Linked DNA regions of Homo sapiens. The protein of the gene in region 1 interacts with the protein of each later gene in a pairwise test. Each region holds a gene or a part of one and is shown in the gene's direction. Other genes may lie near its edges.

Region 1 (7,703 bases):
CAGAGGGAAAGCCCACTTGTTGGGGGAGTGGCTCAGTAACATTTCATTATATGCATACACCACATTTTGTTTATCCATTCAACAGCTGAAGGACATGTGAAGTGTTTCCATCTTTTGGCTCCTATTAATGCTGCTTTGAACATTTGTGTTAACTACAACAAAGATCGAGGCTGGGCATGGTGGCTCATGCCAGTAATCCCAGCACTTTGAGAGGCTGAGGAGGGCGGATTGCTTGAGCCCGAGACCAGCCTGGGCAACATAAGTGAAAACATAAGTGAAACCCTACAAAATAATAATAATAATAATAAGCTGGGTGTAGTGGCCCGCGCCTACAGTCCCAGCTACTCTGGAGGCTGAGATGGGAGGATCTTTCAAGCCCGGGAGGCAGACGTTGCTGTGGGCTGAGATCATGCCACTGCATCCCAGCATGGGCGACAAAAAAAAAAAAAAAAAAAAAAAAAGAAAAAAGATTGAGACACAGAGGTCAAAGGAAATAGCATTTAATTTATTTGAGAAACAAAGAATTGCAATTCACGTACAGTGAATCAGAGCAGCCCTGAATAGTGTCTCATAAGGCAAGCACAGGAGAGGGTTTTTTAAATAGGGGATTCCCACAAGAAGTTTTCAGAGGCAGTTCATTGGCTGGGTAGAACTCTTAAATCTCAAACCCATTCTGATTGGTTGGTTAATTAGGGTACTCACGCTGAGAGATGATGAAGGCTGGCAGATACTTACTGACTTCAGTTGTTTCTACAGGTCTATTCGGTGGTTTGACTTTTTAGCAGGTGTGAATGCAATCCCCTAGCAATCTCCTGACTCCACTTTAGAAAGCCTTCACCTTAGTTACTTCATTTTCTTCCACACTGCACAAGTTTTTGTGTGAACATGTTTTCAATTATCTTTGGTATATACCTAGGAGTGAGTCATATAGTAATTGTATATTCAACTTTCAGAGGAGCCGTCACAATTATTTTTAGCGGGTTTATAGCTTTATTTGACATATATGACAATTGGCAGTTAGTTCTCATCCACACTGACTATCTAGATTTTTGAAAGTGGTAACAGGTATACAGGTAACCACAGTATTGAGCTTGTTTGGTGAATTTTCATCCTTGTTATGTTTTCTGAACAATCGCACATGTACATGGTGTGGGACATTCCTTATTCCTTTGGCCCTGATAGCCTTGTTAAGCCTGGTATCAATGCACACATCTGGAGTGCCCATCTTCATGGCAAATTTCTGAATCTCTTTGAATGCCCACAGAGCATGCTTCTTGAAGCCCACTCCATGGATGTGAGCTAGTGACCCAAGTGTGTTCTTGGGTCACTACCTTGTTGATGGCAGAACAGCTCATCTTCTTGCCACCCTTCTTTGCAGGAGCCATTCTGCCAGGCCCAAGATGGAAAGGAAGAACATGAGGGACGGTGGGAGAAAGAAGGCCTAAACTTTTAAAAAGTGGCTGCACCATTTTACATTTAAGACATTTTGACACATTGTATTTTTGTTGTTATTTGACTCTCTAGATAATTTCTGCCATGACTTTTTCTGTAATGCACAAATTGTTTTTTGAAGAGTTTTAAATTTCCCAACTAAAAAGGCTTTTCTAGTTATTTTTCTTTTATAATGTCTAACTTGGCTGGGCGTGGTGGCTCATATCTGTAATCCCAGTGCTTTGGGAGGCCAAAGCAGGCGGATCACCTGAGGTCAGGATTTTAAGACCAGCCTGGTCAACATGGTGAAACCCTGCCCTCTACTAAAAATACAACATTTGCTAGGCGTGTTGGCAGGCACCTGTAGTCCCAGCTATTCGGGAGGTTGAGGCAGGAGAATCGCTTGAACCTGGGAGGCGGAAGTTGCAGTGAGCCGAGATCACGTCACTGCACTCCAGCCTGGGTGACAAGGAGACTCCATCTTAAAAAAAAAAAAATTGTTTTGTTAATTACAATAAATTATGTCAAAAACAAAGATAATTTCTTAAAACTCTTCACTTTCTTTTATGTTCCTTGCATCTACTGTATCTGTATGGTGGAAATACTATATAATGGTGTGCTACTAGACATCTTTTCTCAAATTCTTATTAAGTGATGTCACATTGGTGGCTTGAAATTGGCTATGATGGGAATATTGACATCATGGAAATCAGCAAAAGCTAAACATTGGACATTTAAACTTAAGAAACGGATGTGGAAAATATTAATGCAGAGTAAACTTAAAAGTTTGTGTTATCTGTAGCCTTTACATTGTGACTTGCAGAAAAAATTAAGAAAAATTATTCCAGTGTTAGAAAATGATTATCTATTTCAGCAAAGAAGTTGCTCATAACATTGACAAGTGAAATTCTGACATAGATCTTGGATATGTCACTCTCATCTTAATCACAAATAAAAACAAAAATATTAACCAACATTCATGTTGGAACTAGGTTGTTAAACAATTGCAACCATAAGTTGGCCACAAATACAGGAGTACAGCATAAACCAACGAAAGCATTCTGAGAGAAGCAATTGTCTATGAGGAATTTACAGTAAAGAGAATAGGATATTTCATTATTTATAATTCATCTGCTATAATTCCTTATCAATACTTTTGTTGGTGGTGGTGGTGGTGAGACGGAGTCTTGCTTTATTGCCCAGGCTGGAGTGCAGTGGCGCCATCCCGGCTCACTGCAACCTCCGCCTCCCGGGAGTGCGCCTGTAATCCCAGCTACTCCGGAGGCTGAGGCAGTTTTGTAGCCACAAAACTGGCTGCCGTGTCTGACTGGAAATTGCTCCCCTGGAAACTTGGCCACACCTGGCGGTGCATATCTCATGGTTCTGGCTCTGGCTTCTGCTTAGAACCCAGTCAGCATCTGTTCCAGCATGGGAAGCAACTGTTCAGCTAAAACCAAGAGCAGCCTGAAGGAAGTGGGGACGTAGGAGACTTTGTAGGTGCTCACACCCAGACAGGAGAACAAAGGTTTGGTAAGGGCTCAGACCTTAGAGACGGGTTCTCGACGATGTGCAGCGCATAACGAGGAAAATACTGACCGGAGGGGGCCGGTCGTAGGGCTGGGGAGCAGGAGGAGGGCAAAGGATAGAGAGGGGGTAGATAGGGAGTAGATAGGGGGCGGCAGCCTCGGCCTCAGTAAGCAGGGGCTCAGGGAGCAGATGTCTGAGACTGCACCACGTCCGCTATTTTGAGGTTTGGCTTCTCTTACTGCCACGTGGTGCAGAGGGAAGGCGCCATTTGATGCGTCCAAATCCCGAGTGGGAAGAGAAGATACGGATGAGGGAGATGGATGTGTCTGTGGTGACTCTTGGGCACTTGTGCCGTTCAATCCTGTCACTCTCAAGCTGAAGAACCCAAAGCAAACGCCAGGTTTACAATACCTGCACTATCACTCATTAGTGGGAGGGTCAGGCGCCACCCAACTCTGGGCTTTTATTGGTCATGTCAAGAAAAAAGCGAGAGGGACAACTGGGAGCCTCCTTCTGATTGGTGGATTCCTGCTAGCCCTCAAGTCAATCAGAGTAGAATGTACCGCCCTCCTTCCCACTCTGGCCCCCGCGGGAGACATGTTAGGTAGCGGGACGCCAACCTTGTCACTCTTCTGAGACCGCCACCCAGTAACACGCCCTGCTTTCCTCCGCCGCCGCCGTCTCCTCCATCAACTGTCTCCTTCTAACATGTTATTGCAGTTAATAAAAAAGCGTTCTTTTCTTCACAAAAGCAGTTGTTTCATTGTATAATGTGAGAAGTCTGCGTTCAGGCGGTTAGACGCAAAGGAGTGGAATAAGTGCCCTGTTCAGCCTGCCAACCTTCGGAACCAGCCAACAGACTCGGTACTGACTGCCATGATCCAGTAAGCACCCGACTCGGGTCTCTGGCAGCCTGAGTGGATTTTGCGTGACTTTTGGTCCCTGGCGGCTCCTGTAGCGTCCCCAGTTACGGCGCCCATAGCAACCGGCTCCCTAGCTAGGCGCCCCCGGGTTGCCAGGGGCCGCACCAGCTTTCCCGTCCCGGGCCAGCGCAGGCGCTCAGGCCTCGGAGGCGGGGCGATGGCCACCTCCCACCGAGTGGCGAAGCTGGTGGCCTCCAGTCTCCAGACCCCGGTAAATCCCATCACTGGAGCGCGGGTCGCCCAGTACGAACGCGAAGACCCCTTAAAGGCCCTGGCGGCAGCGGAGGCGATCTTGGAGGACGAAGAGGAGGAGAAAGTGGCTCAGCCCGCTGGGGCATCGGTAATACTGGGGCGGGACTTGGGCTGGGACCTCGCATGGGCTGGGTGCAGGCTGAGGGCTGTCCGGTTCCCCGCCCAGCTGAGGGCAGGCTGGTAAACGCGGGTCCCTGTGCACATAGTCCCTACTTGGTGGTCCTGGCCCAGCCCCTTCTCTACGCTCACGAAAATTACTCTAAATCGAGGCGTTGAAAAGTGTTTTAATTTTCACCAGTCTGTTGTAAAAGCTTCCTAGACAACATTTATGTTACTCTGCTTCTGGCAAGTGCAAAGTATAGAATTTTACTCTCTACTCTCCAGCATCTCGGGAATGGATATATAGAGATATATCTGGCTATATATAGTAATTTGAGGAAAACTGTTCTGTCAGGTGTGTTTCGTTATTACCTTAAGATCTTGGTTATAAGCGGATCTCAACATAGTGCTCTAAAGATGTGTGTTTAAAACCATCACGTGTTCACTGGCTAAATCAGACACGGATACAGATAAGCAAATCACTGAGGTTTCAGTGTTTCCTAAACAGCTCTTTAGGGTACAGCGAGACGGCCTTTTCACTGATCAGTTTTCATTGTTAAATCTGTTGTGGACACCAGTCCAGCAGGTAGAGGGCAGGGTCTGCCATCTGCTCAATTCACTTAAAAGATGGGAATCTTGGCCGGGCGCGGTGGCTCGTGCCTATAATCCCAGCACTTTGGGAGGCCGAGGTGGGCGGGTTACGAGGTCAGGAGTTCGAGACCAGCCTGACCAACATGGTGAAACCCCGTCTGTACTAAAAATACAAAATTTAGCCGGGCGTGGTGGTGCGCCCCTGTAATCCTAGTTACTCGGAAGGCTGAGGCAGGAGAATCGCTTGAACTTGGGAGGTGAGGGTTGCAGTGAGCTGAGATCTCAGACCCAGTCTCAAAAAAAAAAAAAAAAAAAAAAGATGGGAATCTTGAATTTAAACTAGCAATCTGCAGATAGAAAAAATTTCCTAATACCATGTGTCCAAAGCTTCTCAGACACCAAACTTATGATTGAGGACTAACTGAAATCACTGGATATTTTGGAATTCTGATCTCTTTAATCTACAGTAAAATTGTTAATGAGAACATCTTTAGCAACACCTTTTGTGACCAATCTTTCACCAACAGACAAACAACTTGAAGTTATCCAGAGTAAGGCAGACTGAGACCCTGAACATGAACCAGGATCAGAGTGCTAGGACCGATTTTGTTCATGATGAAGCTACCCCTCAACACAATTTTCAGTAGGCAACAAGGCAACGTGATGGAGAAAAAGGATTGAAGAGTTCTGTATTAGGATCCATTCCCTGCCACTTCCTAGGTGGTGTTAGGACATAATTTCCTTAAACCTCAGTTTCCTTATCTGTAAAATAACTATAATAATTGTCTCTTTTTTCCCATCTCAGCTCTATGAGAACCAAATGAAAGAATGTGTGTCTCCTCTAAAGAGCAATCTATGTAAATGAGTTGCCAGTGGGAGTGTCATTTGTGTGCCTTCCCAAAGATTAAACTCAACTTTGGCTTGCTGTGGTAAAGGAGTCAGTCACTTCTAAGTTGCAGATATGCTTCCACAGTGCCCTGTTAAACTGCAAATTTGTGTTAGAAACTGTTATTACCTTAGGAGGGATCAGTTTATACAATAATCTAGTTTGGAAAGGACAGGATCCTACAAAAAAAAAAAGGAAGCCAAGTCTTAAGAGTTTGGTACTGTTCTGAGACCACCACACATGAGGGATCCAAAAGTAAAGCTGGGTAAGCTGCCACAGTGGGCCTGATAGCCAGGGGGCACAGGCTGGGGGAAGAGGCATTAAGAAGGCAGGAAGAGTGCAGGAAATAGGCTCTGCTTTCTTCACTGGTTGGCTTGGGTCTCCATCTTGATTTTTAAAGGTTAATTTGCCTTAACCTTATTATCTATAAAATGTAGTAAAGTCAAATATTATACCTAACCCACAAGATTGATTTGAGAACCACCCATCACAATAGGCCTCTTTCAGCTCTTTGGTTTTGCCAAAGCCAGACCACTCATCCCACCCCACACTGCCCCCCAACCCCCCAACCCCTGCACCATCCCTATACACCCTCCCAGCTCTGGCATACACACGCACCCCCCTTGCAGTGCCCATATTGGGCACTGATGCCTGTTCCTTGAATCTAGCCTTAGTCAGAGATGTTGGTCCACATATCCTGTTATATGACTGATGATGACACAGGTAACGCAGTATTCTGTAATTCGCAATTAAAATCTCACTCCTCCCAGCACTTTGGGAGGCTGAGGCAGGTAGATCACTTGAGGTCAGGAGTTTGAGGCCAGCCTGGCCAACATGGCAAAACCCGGTCTCTACTAAAAATACAAAAAGTAGCCGGACGTGGTGGCACGCGCCTGTAATCCCAGCTACTAGGGGGCGCTGAGGCAGAATTGCCTGAACCCGGGAGGCGGAGGTTGCAGTGAGCTGAGATGCAAAAACTGCACTCCAGCCTGGGCAACAGAGTGAGACTATGTCTCAAAAAAATAAATAAATAAAAAGAAAAAATAAAATCTCACTCCTAATGGGGCAACCTTATCTTTTCAACAAATATTGAACATTTATTAAGTGCTAGTCATTAACTATTCAGTGTATATATAGCTCACATCCTCACAGAATTTTCAGTCTGGTGAGGGAAATCAGACAATTAAAAATGAACAGGGCCGGGCGCGGTGGCTCACATCTGTAATCCCATCACTTTGGGAGGCTGAGGTGGGTGGATCACCTGAGGTTGGGAGTTCAAGACCAGCGTGACCAACATAGAGAAACCCCATCTCTACTAAAAATACAAAATTAGCCGGGCGTGGTGGCACATGCCTGTAATCTCAGCTACTCAGGAGGCTGAGGCAGGAGGATCGCTTGAACCCGAGAGGTGGAGGTTGCAGTGAGCCGAGATCACGCCATTGTATTCCAGCCTGGACAACAAGAGCGAAACTCCATCTCAAAAAACAAAAAATGAACAGACACATAACTATAAGATGGGAAATGTTGGGAAAGAAATGAACAGCCTATAATGATTAAAAATAAATAGGAGAGAACCTATTGTTTTTCTTCTGACTCCACTTTTTATTTATTATTTTTTGAGACAGAGTTTCACTCTCTTGTCCAGGCTGGAATGCACTGGTGCAGTCACAGGTCACTGCAGTCTCAACCTCCCAGGATCAATCAATCTCCTCACCTCAGCCTCCCAAGTAGCTGGAACTAAAGGTGCATGCCACCACGCCCAGCTAATTTTTATATTTTTTGTAGAGACAGAGTTTCACCATGTTCCCCAGGCTGGTCTCGAACTCCTGGGCTCAAGTGATCCACCTGCCTTGGCCTCCCAAAAGTGCTGGGATTATAGGCGTGAGCCACTGTGCCTGGCTCCACTGTCGATATACATACATACATACACATATACACACATACACACGAACGCACACACACATATATTTTTTTGAGATGGAGTTTTACTCTTG
Region 2 (8,360 bases), on another chromosome or scaffold:
TAGCAACAAAACCTACTAAACCAAAATCAAACAAGTTAAAAATAAACATTGGTCTTCACCTTTTTCGGACTGTGGTGAATTGTCCTTTCCATTGTTTTCCAGGAACACTATGAAAAGATTGCAAAACCAAATCATGAGAAGGTTAGATTCCTACTGAAATGAAAGATATTCATGGTATTTGGAAACTCTTATAAGCAAGAAGTCCGAAAAGTTCAAGATACTTCTGTAGAATGGTTTAATTTAAAAAGTGGCTGCTATCCTGGATGGGGTTAAGAAGCTGCTGGTACTCTGCTCTGGATCTCCTTCTTCCCTGTGGTTCTCCTCCCAACAAATAACTCTCATCTTCAAGTCTACCAAAAGCGGCTGACCTTAGTAGCATAACCTCTAAACCAAACTCAACTCTTACCTTCTCCATAAAGCTGCCAGAAATTGCTCCTGCCGAGAGTAATTTACCTCTTACACACCACTGTTATTTCACTGTGTGGTACTGTATTCCCAATTAAATTGAGAATGTCATAATAGATTTTATAAAACACTCGCAATGCCTAGCCTATTTGGAAGCATTCAAAAACTATGTATTGATGTATTTGTTCAATCAATGTATCCTTTCCTCCTTCCCCTTCCACATATTACCATCAGTTCTTATGATTCTACTGCCTTCTCTCCTTCCTCAGTTCTTAATTCTCATCATCTCTCACCTAAACCTAAAATTGTATTCACGCAGATCTCCCTGTTTTCAATCTTAATCCCTCTCCTATCTACTCTTCTCACTTGGCAACTGCCTTTGTAAAACTCCATTCCAGCATTATTTTTTTCTTTTGAGACAAGGTCTTGCTCTGTCGCCCAGGTTGGAGTGCATGGCGCCATCACAGCTCCCTGCAGCCTTGATTGACTCCCTAGATTCAAGTGATCCTCTTGCTTCAGCCTCCCAAGTAGCTAGGACTACCGGCACACACCGCCATGCCAAGCTAATTTTTGTATTATTTGTAGAGACAGGGTTTCACCATGCCCAGGCTGGTCTCCAACTCCTGGCCTCAAGCTATCCTCCCACCTCAGTCTCTAAAAGTGCTCAGATTACAGGCGTGAGCCACAGCACCCAGCCAAATCCAGCATTCTTGATAACAGAATAAAATCCAAACTCCTTGGTATTCAAAGATTTTCACAAATGGGCTCCTCCTCCCTTGATCTTCAGTAAGTTTAAGATAATTAAGCATAATTACTGCTTCAAAGCTCCGTAAACATGATATAGGGGAAAAAAAGGCAAGAGAAAAACAGAGGGAAGGAACAAATTTTTAGGAAGCAAATTAATGAAGAAATAATGACTAAGCATGGTGGCTCACACCTGATCGCTTGAGGCCAAGAGTTTGAGTCCAGCCTGGTCAACACAGCAAGACCCCACCTCTTAAAAAAAGAATATTAATTTTAAAAAATAAGTAAAAATTTTCAAAAATTTTAAAAAAGACTAAAGCAATAAACAGGTATGTACCCAGTAACATGAATAAAGCAAAAGCAAACCAAAGGAGAGAGCTTTAGAGAGACAGCAGCCAAATGATAGAAAGGTCCAAAACAAACTGGAAGGGTTAAGATTTTCCATTGTAATGCTTACGTATAAGGCTTGATCAATATCCCCCTGTCCACTCTAATCATCCAAGTTGATGAACTATAGATAGTAGACAGAATAGGCCGGACGCGGTGGTTCACGCCTGTAATCCCAGCACTTTGGGAGGCCGAGGCAGGCGGATCACCTGAGGTAGTTCGAGAGCAGCCTGACCAACATAGAGAAACCCCGTCTCTACTAAAAAGAAAATAGAAAATTAGCAGGGCATGGTGGCGCATGCCTGTAATCCCAGCTACTCGGGAGTGTGAGGCAGGAGAAAACCCGGGAGGCAAAGGTTACAATGAGCCGAGATCATGCCATTGCACTCTAGCCTGGCAACAAGAGCAAAACTCCGTCTCAAAAAAAAAAAAAAGGGAGAGAGTAGACAGAATAAATATAAGCATATTATCTCAGTCGCTAGATTTCAGAGGAACTTCTGAAAATACTAATATGGCCAGAGACAGTTCTAGTCAAATGCTATATTCTTTTCTTGCTATGAACAGTGGCCATAAGTAGTATTAAGTACTCACATCATACTAGATGCCTAAGAAAACAAAATTAATGATCCTTCCAAAAGGAAAAAAATGTAAAAATTAAAACTGCTATATAATTTCAGTTTTATGTGATGGGTAAAGATTAGCACAAATTATGTATGTTGTTACTTTTTTTAAAGAGAGAAAATTTTGTCGTAAAGAGAAAATAAATCTTACTAAGAGATGGAAAAAAGTATAATCAGAAGAGTGATTCTCAGCAACTAACAACAAAAAAGAATGGCTACTTTGAGGTTTAAAGTTATTAAATTAAAAATAATTAGCCAGGTATGGTGGCACATGCCTGTGGTTTTAGCTACTGAGGAGACTGAAGCGAGAGGATCACTTGAGGCCAGGAGTTTGAGGTTACAGTGAGCTATGAACACACCACTGCACTCCAGTCTGGGCAACAGAGCAAGACCCTGTCTCAAAAAAAAAAAAAATTAAAGAATAAAAACATACATATAAAAAAACCAAAATTACCTCTCAAACCATGTTTTTATACTGTGTGCAAATGACTCCCCTGGATACAGCTGATTATTTCTTAGATATGAAAGAATATCTAGTAGTTTATTTGAATAGTTATCATCCTTTATGTCTTTTCCAAAATCAAAGAAAGCTTTTAAAGTTTCCAACATAGGAACAATATCATGACCTAGCAATTCCTGATATAAATTCCAAGCTGTGTTTACATCTTGATGAAGGAGAGCTCCCTGGATACAGTCATTATAGTTCTTTTTTGAAGGAGTTATAACTTTTTTGATGTCCTCTAACAGCAACAATGCTTCTCTCCATCTGTCTGAATGGATCAATCCCCGGATGAGAAGACTGTAACCTCTAGGTTCTAAAGTCTTATATCTGGCTTTCATAATTTCAAAGACATCAATAACTTCAGATGTCTGCATATGAAAGACACAGAGATACAAATACTTGACCAGTAAATCGTAACTTACAATACCATTATTTTTGGCTGCTACCCATGCCAGCAGAGATTTAGCCACATCTATAGAGCTATGACAGCCAGCCATCTGTGAAATGATCCAACTTTCGAAACTGGTCTTTCCGGTGTTTTCTTTTAAATCTTCCTTAAGTTTATCCCACTCCTCTGAATTCAAAGGTTGTGTTGGGAGTTGAATAGTGTTCCTCACAGGTGCCAAGGCATGATCTTCAGTTTGAGAATTCATCTGTGATCTCTCCTTAGCTGCTCCAGCTAAAAAAAAATGAGGAACAGAATAAACTTGCTTATTACTGCCCTCATCTTTCCTGAGATATCTGGCCTTGGCAATCAGATTCGTTGCTTTGGTATTCTGTGGAGACATTGTTTTAAGAGAAAACAACCTCTGCTGGTTCCTGATGCCACAGCGGTCTGCCAGAAACAGCGAGACATAAGAGTGCCCTGGGCCTAGCCCAAGGTATGGGCTCTTCCAAAGCTTCGGAAAGCTTCGAATACCAAACAAATAGAAAGTCATTATGCAGTGAGATCAGCACCAGATAGTGAGAGAGATGTTGAAAAAACCCCTCTTCTATGGCAAAATTAAAGAGATTGGGGGTCGGCGGTGCAGAGTCGAAGTGGAACTTTTTAAAAGGTTTGTGTTTCTTCCTTACAGACAAATCAAGGTTCTGCTTTTGGGGCTACTTAAAAGCAAGAAGGCAGGTGAGTTTTCTCTATTAAACAACAATCCGGGGATGTCCAACGTCGCAAGCCGCAAACCAGGGGACAGAGCAGGAATCCTCTGGTGCCTCTTACATTCCAGTTCATGAACCTGAGGAAAAAGCACAAGACGGAACGCCCAGTTTTACTCACGTGGATCACAGCTGTCCTGAAAAGGAACAGATTCCCACGGGAAGCTTGCTGGAAAGGGGGTGTAAAGCCAAAACCGTATCCAGGGACCCCCAACTCCAGCCTACCACCAACAGCGGCGAAAGCCGAAGTCTAGGGGCCCTCACCCTGCATAGCTCTCTACAGACCGCAAAACTCCTCCGGTGGGGGGACGAGGAGGGAGGAGGTGGCGAGTCAGCTGCGCCAACGACTCAGGAAAGGAAGAGAGGTACAGGAAGGGCGCTGCCTAGACTGCGTACCGAACGCTGACAAATGAAGTTCACTTCATTCAACAACTCAAAGCGGCACTCAGACTTAACGCGGCCATAAACGCGGCGGAAACTACAGTGCCCACGATGCACCGCGCCAGCCCCGACCGACGGACGAGACTGACCCGGACTTAGGCGTTCCGCCTGGCCCGGCGGCGAGGAAAAAAGGCAGTTTTGAAGCATTTAGTGGCAAAAGGGGTAGGAGACGGCTGCTGAAGTGTCTACTACATTCAGGGGACCTGGAAGGCTTCCAGATATCCGCAATGAACAATGAAAAGAAATTGTGAAAGAAGGCGCTTCCCTCAAGCCGGAACTAATGAACTCCTGGGTCACGTGGTGCGCACGCGCCAAAGGCACACGATAAAGGAAAACGCGGGCTTATCGTGGCCTTTAAAATCCGGCTTGGTGAGCTTGGGTCGCCTCTGAAGGAGAACCATTTTCCATCTCTTTCATAGTTTTTTCCCCCAGTCAGCGTGGTAGCGGTATTCTCCGCGGCAGTGACAGTAATTGTTTTTGCCTCTTTAGCCAAGACTTCCGCCCTCGATCAAGATGGTGGTTGGACGGCCTTCCTAACCTTTACGGGGCCTGGCGGTGCTGACGCCTGAGCTGGTAGGGGTGGAGCAGGTAGGAAACAGCAAATGCAGAAGCTGCTGCGCGGAAGTCGGCCATGGACTGGAAAGAAGTTCTTCGTCGGCGCCTAGCGACGCCCAACACCTGTCCAAACAGTGAGTTTTGGGAGGGGCAGCCCGTTGGGATGGCCCGGCCCTAAACTCCTAGAGGTAGGGGGGAGGTGGGGAGGAGGAGCAAGGGGGAGCCGCCTTTTCCGCTTCTGTGAAACCTCCCGACAAAGGAGGCGGAGTGGAATGTGGTTTAAGGATCCCGATAGGTTTGACCCAAACTTTCCTGGGGCAGAATCTAGAGGAACGAAAAACTTAGCTTTAGTCACTGACTTCCATGGTCTTAATCTAAACTTGTGAAGAATAACTTGGAACCCCGGCTCCAACAACGCCTGAACCCCACCAGGACCTATAATTGTCCTCCTGCCTTTTTACTGTCACGCTTTTTGCTTCCCTCGTAATCCATTTTATATTTCATAATCCATTTTTCCTTTTATTTTTCTCCTTCACATTGCTTATTAACTAACCTCGTTAAATCTACCTTTCCTATTCCACACCCGCACTAAGGGCTGTTGAAAGTGGCTGGAGAAAAACAGAACCTTGGTGAGTTGTCTCACTTTTTTTTTTGAGACGGAGTCTCTTGCTCTGTCGCCCAGGCTGGCTGGAGTGCAGTGGCAGCATCTCCGCTCACTGCAACCTCTGCCTCCCGGGTTCAAGCGGTTCTTCTGCCTCAGCCTCTGGAGTAGCTGGAACTATAAGCGCGCGCAACCACGGCCGGTTAATTTTTGTATTTCTAGTAGAGACGGGGTTTCGCCATATTGGCCAGGCTGGTCTCAAACTCCTGACCTTGTGATTCGCCCACCTCGGCCTCCCAAAGTGCTGGAATTACAGACGTGAGTCACCGCGCCCCGCCGAGTTATCTCACTTTTAATACAAGTCCACTAATCTAAAGAAGGTGTTTTGGTCATGTCTACCGTGTTTTCCTGGACGTTCATTCTCCTACATTCAATTTTCATCTCCCAAACTGCCAATCTGTGTTTTCCTAAATACACTTTTTTTTTTCCGATACAGGATCTCCCTGTGTTGCCCAGGCTGGAGTGCAGCGGCGCAGTGAAGTATTGCTGCAACCTCGATTTCCTGGGCTCAAGGGATCTTCCCACCCCAGCCTCTTGAGCAGCTAGAAGTACAGGCACACGCCACCACACCCGGCTAATTTTTTATTTTTAGTGGAGATGAGGTCTTGCTATGTTGCCTGGGCTGGTCTCGAATTCCTGGCCTCAGGCAGTCTTCCTACCTCCACCTCCCAAAGTGTTGCTATTACAGACGTGAGCCGCCGCACCCAGGCAACACTCTTTTACACTATTCTTCTCATCTCCTACACCTGCAGTCTGTCCTACCCGCTTCTTACTTTAAGCTGATGAACTTGTATTTTAATATATATCTCATTAAGAAAGGAGAAGCAGTCGGCCGGGCGCGGTCGCTCAGTCCTGTAATCCCAGCACTTTGGGAGGCCGAGGCGGGCGGATCACGAGGTCAGCAGATCGAGACCATCCTGGCTAACACGGTGAAACCCCGTCTCTACTAAAAATACAAAAAAATTACCCGGTAGTGGTGGCGGGCGCCTATAGTCCCAGCTACTCCAGAGGTTGAGGCAGGAGAATACCTTCAACCCGAGAGGCGGAGCTTGCAGTGAGCCCGAGATTGTGCCACTGCACTCCGGCCTGGGCGACCGAGCGACACTCAGTCTCAAAAAAAAAGGAGAAGCAGTCAGAGGAGAACATCACCTGTCCCCCTTAACATTTCTTTCAGCCCCACAACCCCACAGTTAGTTGCCCATACACTCTGGCTTCACTGTTAAAATGATGAACTGATGCCGGGCGCGGTGGCTCAAGCCTGTAATCCCAGCACTTTGGGAGGCCGAGGCGGGCGGATCACGAGGTCAGGAGACTGAGACCGCAGTGAAACCCCGTCTCTACTAAAAATACAAAAAATTAGACGGGTGCGGTGGCGGGCGCCTGTAGTCCCAGCTACTCAGGAGGCTGAGGCAGGAGAATGGCGTGAACCCGGGAGGCGGAGGTTGTAGTGAGCCGGAGATTGTGCCACTGCACTCCAGCCTGGGCGACAGAGCGAGACTCCGTCTCAAAAAAAAAAAAAAAAAAAGATGAACTGTCCATGCTCCTATTTAAGAGTCCCTCCAGTCCACCACTAGATTGCATTCTTTTCCCTGTATTCACTGACTTCCTTCCAGCCTCCTCCTTTCTTTCCTACATCATCAGATTTTCCTTCTGCTGGATCATTTACACCAGCACAAACGTGCTGTTAATATCACCCATCTTTTTAAAAGGTGGGTGGTCGGGGGTAGTGGTGTTGGGAGGCTCGGTGGCTCATTCATGTAACCCCAGCACTTTGGGAGGCCGAGATGGGAAGATCGCTTGAGGCCAGGAGTTTGAGACCAGCCTGGGCAACATAGTGAAACACCGTTTCTACAAAAATAGAAAGTAAAAAATTAGCCCGGGTGGTTGTGCACCACTGTAGTCCTAGCTACTCGAGAGGCTGAAGCAGGGAGGGTTGTTTCAGTCTAGGAGTTTGGGGCTGCAGTGAGCTATGATCATGACACTATACTGCAGCCTGGGTGACAAGAGCCAGACCCTGTCTTAAAAAAAATTCATTTGGGCTGGGCACTGTGGCTTACACCTGTAATCCCAACACTTCGGGAGGCCGAGGTAGGCAGATCACTTGAGGTCAGGAGTTCAAGACCAGCCTGGCCAACATGGTGAAAGTCCGTCTCTACTAAAAATACAAAAAGTAGCTGGGCGCAGTGGTGCACACCTGTAATCCCAGCTACTTGGGAGGCTGAAGCGGGAGAATCGCTTGAACCCAGGAGGCAGAAGTTGCGGTGAGCTGAGATTACGACACTGCTCTCCAGCCTGGGCGATAGAACGAGACTACATCTCAAAAAAAAAAAAAAAAGTCATTTGATCCCACATCCCTCTCCAGCTTCTGTTGCATTTCTCTGCACTCTTCATAGGAAAACTTCTCAAAGAAGTTACCTGTACTTGGCTGGGCGCAGTGGCTCATGCCTGTAATCCCAGCACTTTGGGAGGCTGAAGTGGGTGGATCACCTGAGGTCAGGAGACAGACCAGCCTGGCCAACGTGGTGAAACGCTCTCTCTACTAAAAATACAAAATTTAGCCGGGCATTGTGGCAAGTGTCTGTAATCCCAGCTACTCAGGAGGCTGAGGCAGGAGAATCACTTCAACCCAGGAGGTGAAGTTTGCAGTGAGCCAAGATCGCGCCACTGCCCTCCAGCCTGGGTGACAGTGAGACTCAGTCTCGGAAAAAAAAAAAAAAAAAAGGAAGGTACCTGTACTTGTACTTTGTGTGCTTTCTTGACCCCTTAACTCTTAAACCCACTGCATTCTTTTAGCAGATATTTATTGCATGCCTGTTTTGTGCCAAGTACCGTTGTAGCTTATAGCAGAACACAAAAAAATCTCTGTCTTTGTAGAACTTACACTTTAGTGTGG
Region 3 (8,229 bases), on another chromosome or scaffold:
AAATGCCACCCTTCAAAATCAAGCCCCTTTCAGGATACCTGAGGATTGTTCTCTGAAGAAGCTTAACCAGAAAGGCTCTGAACTGAGCGATATGAGGCTCAGAGGAGGACAAGGGTGAGCAACAATGACGAAAAAGAGAAGAGGTTAAACATTTGAGTCTACAGACATTAAAACCAAGTAAGCATCCAAAATAATAAATGAAAAAAAGATCTACATCAAATTTAATCATTGTGAAACTTCAGAACATCATGATAAAGATGCCAAATGGTTCTAGAGAGGAAAAAAAATGGATCATATCCAAAGGATTAGGAATAAGAATGACCTTGCATTTTTAAGAAACATTAAAAACTAAAAGACAGGGGAAAATAATATGTCTTAAGATTTTTAATAAAAATTATTTTCAACCTAAAAGGTTACATCTAGCCAAACTATCAATCAAGTAAGTATAAGGGTATCAAAAAGATATTTCAGGCACACACACAGTCTCCCATAAATGCTTTCTCAGGAAGCCACTAGAGGATATGTTTTTCTAAATGAGGAATTAAACCAAGAAAGAGGAAGAATAGGAGCCAGGCAACAGGAGAGAGGTAAAGGGAATTCCCAGAACGACAGCAGGGGAAGTGCCAGGACCACAGCTGTGTAGCAGGCCTAGAAGCCACCAGCCCAGGCTGGAGGAGGGGGGGGTCAAGGTTCTAAGAGTGTTTGTATGTGGGGATCATATCTCCAAAAAAGTACTAGAATACATAAATTATTTGACCTTTGGGAATATTGTATAGAAAGATTTATAGGCCTCTTACGCTGTTTGGGAAGACAGAGTATTCTCAATACTAGGCAAATGAAAAGAAAAAGAAATTATCAACTCCAGGAAAAACAGAAAGTTGCATATGAATAGAACTATAATCACAATGCTCTACCTGGTTTAACAGTAAACATTATTTCAATAAAGACAATATAGGATATGAATTAAACATTGAGATATAATTTTGTGGGGAAAATGAAGAGAGGAGAAAAAGGGGAGTGTAAACAATGAAAATCTTCATCTATCATTATGAGAAGACAATAAATAATGTCAAAAATTGGTGAGTTGTAAATAAAATCAAGGCATTTTATTTAAAAATGATAAAGTAAATCCCCCCCCCAAAAAATATCTACAACAGTTTTATGTTATTACCTCTAGAAAGCATCACAAGGTTGGAGGAAGGTGGAAGAACAAGGAGTTATTGTTTCTTGGGTTAAGCTTTTTAGCATCATTTGAATTTTCAAATTATTTTCCTGTGATATTTGCGTAAACAGTTAGATGTATTTTCAAAAAATAAGTGTATTCTTTACAAAAGTTCAAAGCCTTAGACGTGTAATTTGTGTTCTTTTAACGTTGATTTGACAATAAAACACTGAGCTCTATTAATTTGCTGTCTTTATTAACTTATCCCAGTTTTTTGGGCCCCTATCAGGCCACAGATAAATTCTTGGGAGTCACAGTTTTGCATGTTTGTATTATTTTCAATTATACTTGAAAATGCATATGCCTGTTTTGGATCTGGGTAGCCACTGTGTAAGTGTCATTTTGATACCTCCACTATCATGTGTGTATCTATTCAAGTTAGGGCCAATTAGCACTACTTTAATAATTGCAGGACAATGAGAAAGAATAGGGCTTTCATCTATTCAGGCTGCTATAACAAAATAACATAAACTGAGTGACTAATAAACAATGGAATTTTTTTTTTTTTGAGACAGAGTCTTGCTCTGTCGCCCAGGCTGGAGTGCAGTGGCACAATCTCGGCTCACTGCAACCTCTGTCTCCTGGGTTCAAATGATTCTCCTGCCCCAGCCTCCCCAGTAGCTGGGATTACAAGCATGCGCCACCACATCCAGCTAATTTCTGTATTTTAGTAGAGATGGAGTTTCACCATGATGGCCAGGCTGATCTTGAACTCCTGACCTCAAGTGATCCACCTGCCTTGGCCTCCCAACGTGCTGGTATTACAGCCGTGAGCCAGCGTGCCGGGCCAACAATGGAAATTTATTTCTCATAGTTCTGTAGGCTGGAAAGTCTAAGATCAAGGTGCAGGCAAATTCTGTGTCTGGTGACTTCCTCGTACAAAGCCTTCTTCTCACTGCACCCTCACATGGCAGAGGGGTAAGGGGTTTCTTTCAGACCTTTTTTATGAGAACACTAATCCCATTCATAAAAGCTCTACCCTCATAATCTAATCACTTCCCAAAGGCCCCACCTCCTCATACCATCACCTGGGGGTTTATGATTTCAACACATGAATTTTGGGGGGACACAAACATTCAGACCATAGCAAGCAGTAAATGATGCAGCCGTATCAAATGAGAGCCCCATGAAATCATAGCAGGCCATATGAATAAAAACTATGTAATAATTTGAATGAATCAAGTGTTGAGGAAATTCCCAAACCACATTGTAGAAGAGTACCAGAAACTCAAAAAACCCAGCAGTCAATAGAGTATTCATGTTGCAAGCAGCAATTTAAGTTCAGCAAAACAATATCTGTCACATAAAAGTAGTGTTATTAATTTGAGTCGCATTTATTGATTTTGTAGGCTTTAAAATGTATACATTTTAAAATTTATGTAACTACTGTAAGCATAAGGAATTTATCCTATTTTCATTTTAGTACATGTAGGTTCAAATAATAATATAATCCTTCAAATAATTTCCACATTATTTAAATTATTCTGTTAAGTGAGTCTATACATTATTTAAATTTGAAAAGCACTGACTTGTTTATATTTACTAAGAGATGTGATCGGGTCAGTTTGCTACAATCCAGGATGGAATGCCACCCAATTTGTGGCACTCACCAAGTATTCATTAATTTAGAAGAAAGTGCTTTTCTCTTTCATCAATTTTAATTCACTAACTTAATTATCAAATAATATAGTGAACAGCTTCATTGTCTTCAACACTGGAATTTCTTTATCCTGACTTCTGCTTGTTGGGTGCACTCATCTATATATAACTTATGCCTCCCCTAAACTCAGAGAATAAGTAGGACAAAACTGGGGGTGGGATGTTTTCATTTCCTTTTGTTGCCATAACATCTTATCACAAATTTAGCAGCTTAAAAATAACATAAGTTTGCTATTTTATATTTCTGGAGGTCGGAAATCCAAAACGAATTTCTTTGATCTAAGATCAATGTCGCAGGATTGCATCCCTCTGGAGGCTCTAGAGTATAATCTGTTTCCTTGCCTTTCCCAGCTTCTAGAAGCTTCCTGACCTATGCTGAGGTCATCAAATCTCCTTTTCTGCCTCCAATCCTACTGCCTTCCTCCCTCATTTATAAAGACCCTTATGAGGCTGAGTGCAATGGCTCACGCTTATAATCCCAGCACTTTGGGAGGCCGAGGTGGGCGGATCATGAGGTCAGGAGTTCGAGACCAGCCTAGCCAACACAGCGAAACCCCGTCTCTACTAAAAATACAAAAATTAGCTGGATGTGGTGGCAGGCGCCTGTAATCCCAGCTACTTGGGAGGCTGAGGGAGGAGAATCGCTTGAACCCGGGAGGTTGCAGTGAGCTGAGATTGCACCACTGCACTCCAGCCTGAGTGACAGAGCGAGACTCTGTCTCAATAAATAAATAAATAAATACCCTTATGATTACATTGAACCCACCCAGTAGTTCAAGATAACCTCCCTACCTCAGGATCCTTCCTCACATCTGCAAAGTCTCTTTTGTCATGTAAAGAAACATATTCACAGGTTCCAGGGAGTAGGACGTGGAGATCTTTTGGGTGGCATTATTCTGCCTCCCACAAGGGATGCCACTATGCCTAGCCTGTCCCCAGAGCAGAAACCGATGGAGGAATCTGCTTTGGAAGTATGGGAACACAAGCTCCAGAAAGAAAAATAAAAGGCAAATGGATGTAAATTAATAGACAGGCATTTTATGGTGAATCAGAAGGAATTTCTTTTTCTGAGGAGGATCAAGGAGCATGTTGAGGATTTACAAAATGTGGGAAAGCCACCAACTAAGGAAGAAAAAGCAGACTGCTTCCCTGAGGGTTTGTTTGAGATGGGAAGAGTTACCTGGGAAAGACTGTGCTCCAAGGTCACACCAATTACCACGTGCATGAAGATTATACTCAGTTCAGCTCCAAAATCACCATCTACATGTTTATTTCAAACTTTGCAAACAAACCAAACAATGACATCAGAATTAAAATGGTTCCACCACCTCCCTGTTCTTATGCCATTGTTTTTCTTTTTCCATGATTCCTGTAAGAAACCTGACACTAATTAAGCTAGTGCAAGAAGAAGAAGAAAAAGAAGATGAATCTTCCACCACACTGGAGATAACCCAAGAAGTAAGAAAAACTGATCTCTACCCAAAAAGGACAACAATGGTGAAAGACTGCATTTGCAACGGGGGTAATATACTCAGAGTTTAAATTTCCGAAAGGACAAACAAAACATGGAGAGTCTAATGAGATCTTCCAGCTGCTTCTCTCTGCTAAGGTATTTCCCCTGGCAACAGCTAGGGAAGCTTGGGTGTATTTTCCCCTTGCTGTGTCATATGATGTTCCTTTCCCTACCCCCACCTCCTCCAGACTGCTGCCTCCATCAGTGCCTGTGGCGTGTGTGTGTGTGTGTGTGTGTGCGCGCGCGTGCGTGCACGTGTGTATGTGTGTGTGTGTGTATTGGGTTTCTCTCTCCCTTGTAAGAACACAGCCAGCCCGCCCTCTCCTGCTGTTGCTGCAGCTCTGACTTGCTTTTTCCTGCCTCCTTCCTCTCCTCTCTCTTCTTGCTTAGCTTCTTGCCTTCTGGTAAGTATGACAAACACTCCCCCAAGCCCTGTGAGAAGGTATAGGGTGCGGTTTGTGGTGTTCGAAACTTGCAACTTTGAGATTGCCAGTGAACTGTTGGAGAACTTTTCATTGTTGTATTTATAAATAAAATGTGTTGCTTAGGGAGGGATGTGTCTGTGATAGTCATCTGGAATAGCCAACACAAGTGAAAAGTTCTCTCCCTGGGGAGGGGAAAATAAGGCAATAAAGTTTATATAAGATAAAAGTTAGAAATAATTTCTTTGCCACATAATATAAAATGGATGATTGAAAAGTAACAAAGTTCTCTGACTTTGTTTTTTTCCCTCTTGTTAACTTGTCTTGAGGCTACTTTTGGGAATTGAATTGTCCTGGGCTTTATAATGACTGTTCTGTTTTAAAGTAAATGTGGAACAGGAGTTTAAAGAATAGCCATGGAATTAAGAATTTAAAAAATCAATGATTGTGGCATCTCATGAAGAATAAATCAAATACAAACAGCCACTTGCATTTAGACTAACCGAAGTAAAACTCCTATGGACAGCTTATCTTAAATTAATTATTTTGAAGTTCATTTTACTTGAGATTTTATTTCATCCTAAGATAGTCTCCCCGACTTTAAAACCCATGTATGGATTTAAGCCACTAAATGTTTACTGTTTTCAATTTGACTGAAAAACGATTCTCTTGATTTTCAAGGATGAAGTGCTAAACGGCATGACTCATTTTAGAATAGCTTAAAATAACTTCTGGCTGGACAGCAGGTGCCGTGTGTCTTTCTCCGTGTTCAGGGGAGGCCTAAGTTATATATAGATGAGTGCAATCAACAAGTGAGGTCAGGAAAAGAAATCCCAGTGATGAAAATAATGAAACTGCTGCATTATTTGATAATCAAGTTGGTGAATTCAAACCAGTGAAAGAAAAAAAGTACTTCCTCTAAGTTATGAGTGTTTGGTGAGCATCACAAGTCAGTGGCAACATCTGTGTGTTGAATTTTCTGTTCTTGTTGGTGTCTGAGCATTCAATTGACATCTACTGCCCTGAGAACAGGAAAAGGAAGCTGTGCAGTTGTAGAACAGTATGCTTTTGTTTTCACTTTCATGTTACCACAACAGCAAAACCTGTGAATTATGAGGATCTTGCCACATTTTTATGCTGCTATTTAGCAGCATCACTGTTAAATATTATTTACAAATAAAATGCACCATAACTTAAAGGCCTAAACCAAATCTATTGCAACTCTAGAAGTGGTAATAGTCAGAAACCCTGGAATCTCTGACTCAGTACCATCTCTCACCCTTTCCTAAGGGCCCTTATTATTGCTGAATTATTTCTCGAGTTGGTCTCCTCCTTGTTTATGAAACATTGCTACTTCTTAAAAATCATTAAGTTTTTCTAGAGCTTCCTGACTTAGAAGAGAAAGTTGTAATCTGTTTTTCTCTTTTAAAAAATTGGTTTATATATTGGAATAAAAGAGTATTATAGAAATTTAAGGAATTGTTGTTATAAGTATCATCATGCTTTTGTTTTGTTTAGTTTTTGAGACGAAGTCTTGCTCTGTCACCCAGGCTGGAGTGCAGTGGCACGATCTTGGCTCACTACAGCCTCCGCCTCCCAAGTTCAAGCAATTCTCATACCTCAGCCTCCCAAGTAGCTGGGACTACCGGTGCCCGCCACCACACCTGGCTAATTTTTGTATTTTTAGTAGAGACAGGGTTTCACCATGTTGGCCAGGCTGGTCTCCTGGCCTCAAGGATCCACCCGCCTCGGCTTCCTAAAGTGCTGGGATTACAGACATGAGCCACAGCACCTGGCCCGTGTTTCCATACTACTTTGTCTATTTATTTATACCTTCCCTCATTCCCTGTCTTAATCTAAAAATGATGCCAGTTTAAGCCTCAAAAAAAGCATTCGTGTTGCTTATCTGAAAAAGAAAATGCCAGAAAAGTGAGAAATGTCTCCTCTATCCAGTGTAATAATGCATTTACATCAAAATATTCACACTAAGCAAAATATTGATTTATGGATCAAATAGAGCTTAGAGATGTTATTCTTATGAGTTATTTAAATAAATTCAATGGCTCTTCTATTAAATATTTTAACTTTGAAAGAAAACTAATACCACTTTATATTTAAACATTTTAAATATATACAGTCATGTACCCCCAGTGATTGTTAATCTACATAGAATTATACAGGAAAATGGTAACACAAACTGACTAGTGTAAGCAAAATGACAAATATGGCCACAAAGAAAAATAGCATGAATTACTTTCTTAATGTGAATAATAAGGAATGCTACTGAAAACTGAAGATCAAAACCAAAAATATGCCAGCAGTGTGACTTGATTTGGAAAAACAACTTTCCACTGTCCCTACTTTAATAATTGTAATGCAGCAGGACAAGCCGCAGACAAAACCCTTCAGACACCCAGTTAAAGAAGGAAGCAGTTTAATCGGCCGGGAGCGTCAGCAAGACTCCTGTCTCAAGAGCCGAGCTCCCTGAGTGAGCATTTCTTGTCCCTTTTAAGGGCTCACAACTCTAAGTGCGTGCACGTGAGAGGGTTGTGATTGATTGAGCAAGCAGGGGGTACGTGACTGGGGGCTGCATGCACCGGTAATTAGATCGAAACAAAACAGGATAGGGATTTTCACAGTGCTTTTCTATACAATGTCTGTAATCTATAGATAACATAACCTATTAGGTCAGGGGTCAATTTTTAACTACCAGGCTCAGGGCGCGGCACCAGGCTGTCTGCCTGTGGATTTCATGTCTGCGTTTTAGTTTTTACTTCTTCTTTGGAGGCAGAAATTGGGCATAAGACGATATGAGGGGTGGTCTCCTCCCTTAGTAACATCAATGGTTTGTGAAAGGACATTGCCTTTCTCTACGTTAGAGACTATAATTAGTTGGTATTCACTTGGGGGATATCCTTACCATTGAAATGTAGCATTGATATGTAGCAAGTAGGTTAGCTACATAAAGCCTAACTGTGCTTACCACTAGATACTACTCCCAAGATGGAGGCTAATCACTCTGAACAGCTCTCAGCGGAACGACAGTCAACACCTCCAGGTGACAGTTCATCATTACCCAGTCACAATGGCCTGGAGAAGGAAGATGGCCAGGATTCTCCAACCCCAGTCCAACCACCAGAGAAAGAGGCAAGTGTGCACCCCGATATCTCTGAAGAGCTGAATCGACAGCTGGAAGACATCATTAACACTTATGGGTCTGCTGCCAGCACAGCAGGGAAAGAGGGCTCTGCCAGGGCCAGTGAGCAGCCTGAGAATGCAGAATCACCTGACAACGAGGATGGGGACTGTGAGGAAACAACTGAAGAGGCTGGAAGAGAACCCGTTGCTTCTGGAGAGCCACCCACTGTCAAAGAGCCCGTCAGCAATAAGGAGCAAAAATTGGAAAAGAAAAT

What was found. The genes of interacting proteins can lie anywhere in the genome.
Region 2: the proteins of FAM161A (region 1) and PPP2R3C interact in binary tests that used the Homo sapiens proteins (3 or more experiments, as listed by UniProt).
Region 3: the proteins of FAM161A (region 1) and TXLNB interact in binary tests that used the Homo sapiens proteins (3 or more experiments, as listed by UniProt).

The regions. Positions count from the first base shown.
Region 1 is NC_000002.12:61,850,377-61,858,079, reverse strand, and holds the start of FAM161A (protein FAM161A), read left to right. Parts: upstream 1-4,019; 5' UTR 4,020-4,038; coding exon 4,039-4,221; intron 4,222-7,703. UniProt on the Homo sapiens protein: Involved in ciliogenesis.
Region 2 is NC_000014.9:35,118,482-35,126,841, reverse strand, and holds the start of PPP2R3C (serine/threonine-protein phosphatase 2A regulatory subunit B'' subunit gamma), read left to right. Parts: upstream 1-4,851; 5' UTR 4,852-4,882; coding exon 4,883-4,940; exon of another isoform or gene 4,941-5,003; intron 5,004-6,013; exon of another isoform or gene 6,014-6,015; intron 6,016-8,360. Other genes in the region: PRORP (mitochondrial ribonuclease P catalytic subunit isoform 1 precursor), read right to left, coding at 60-107, 2,611-3,596. UniProt on the Homo sapiens protein: May regulate MCM3AP phosphorylation through phosphatase recruitment. May act as a negative regulator of ABCB1 expression and function through the dephosphorylation of ABCB1 by TFPI2/PPP2R3C complex.
Region 3 is NC_000006.12:139,288,490-139,296,718, reverse strand, and holds the start of TXLNB (beta-taxilin), read left to right. Parts: upstream 1-4,720; 5' UTR 4,721-4,798; intron 4,799-7,805; 5' UTR 7,806-7,819; coding exon 7,820-8,229. UniProt on the Homo sapiens protein: Promotes motor nerve regeneration. May be involved in intracellular vesicle traffic.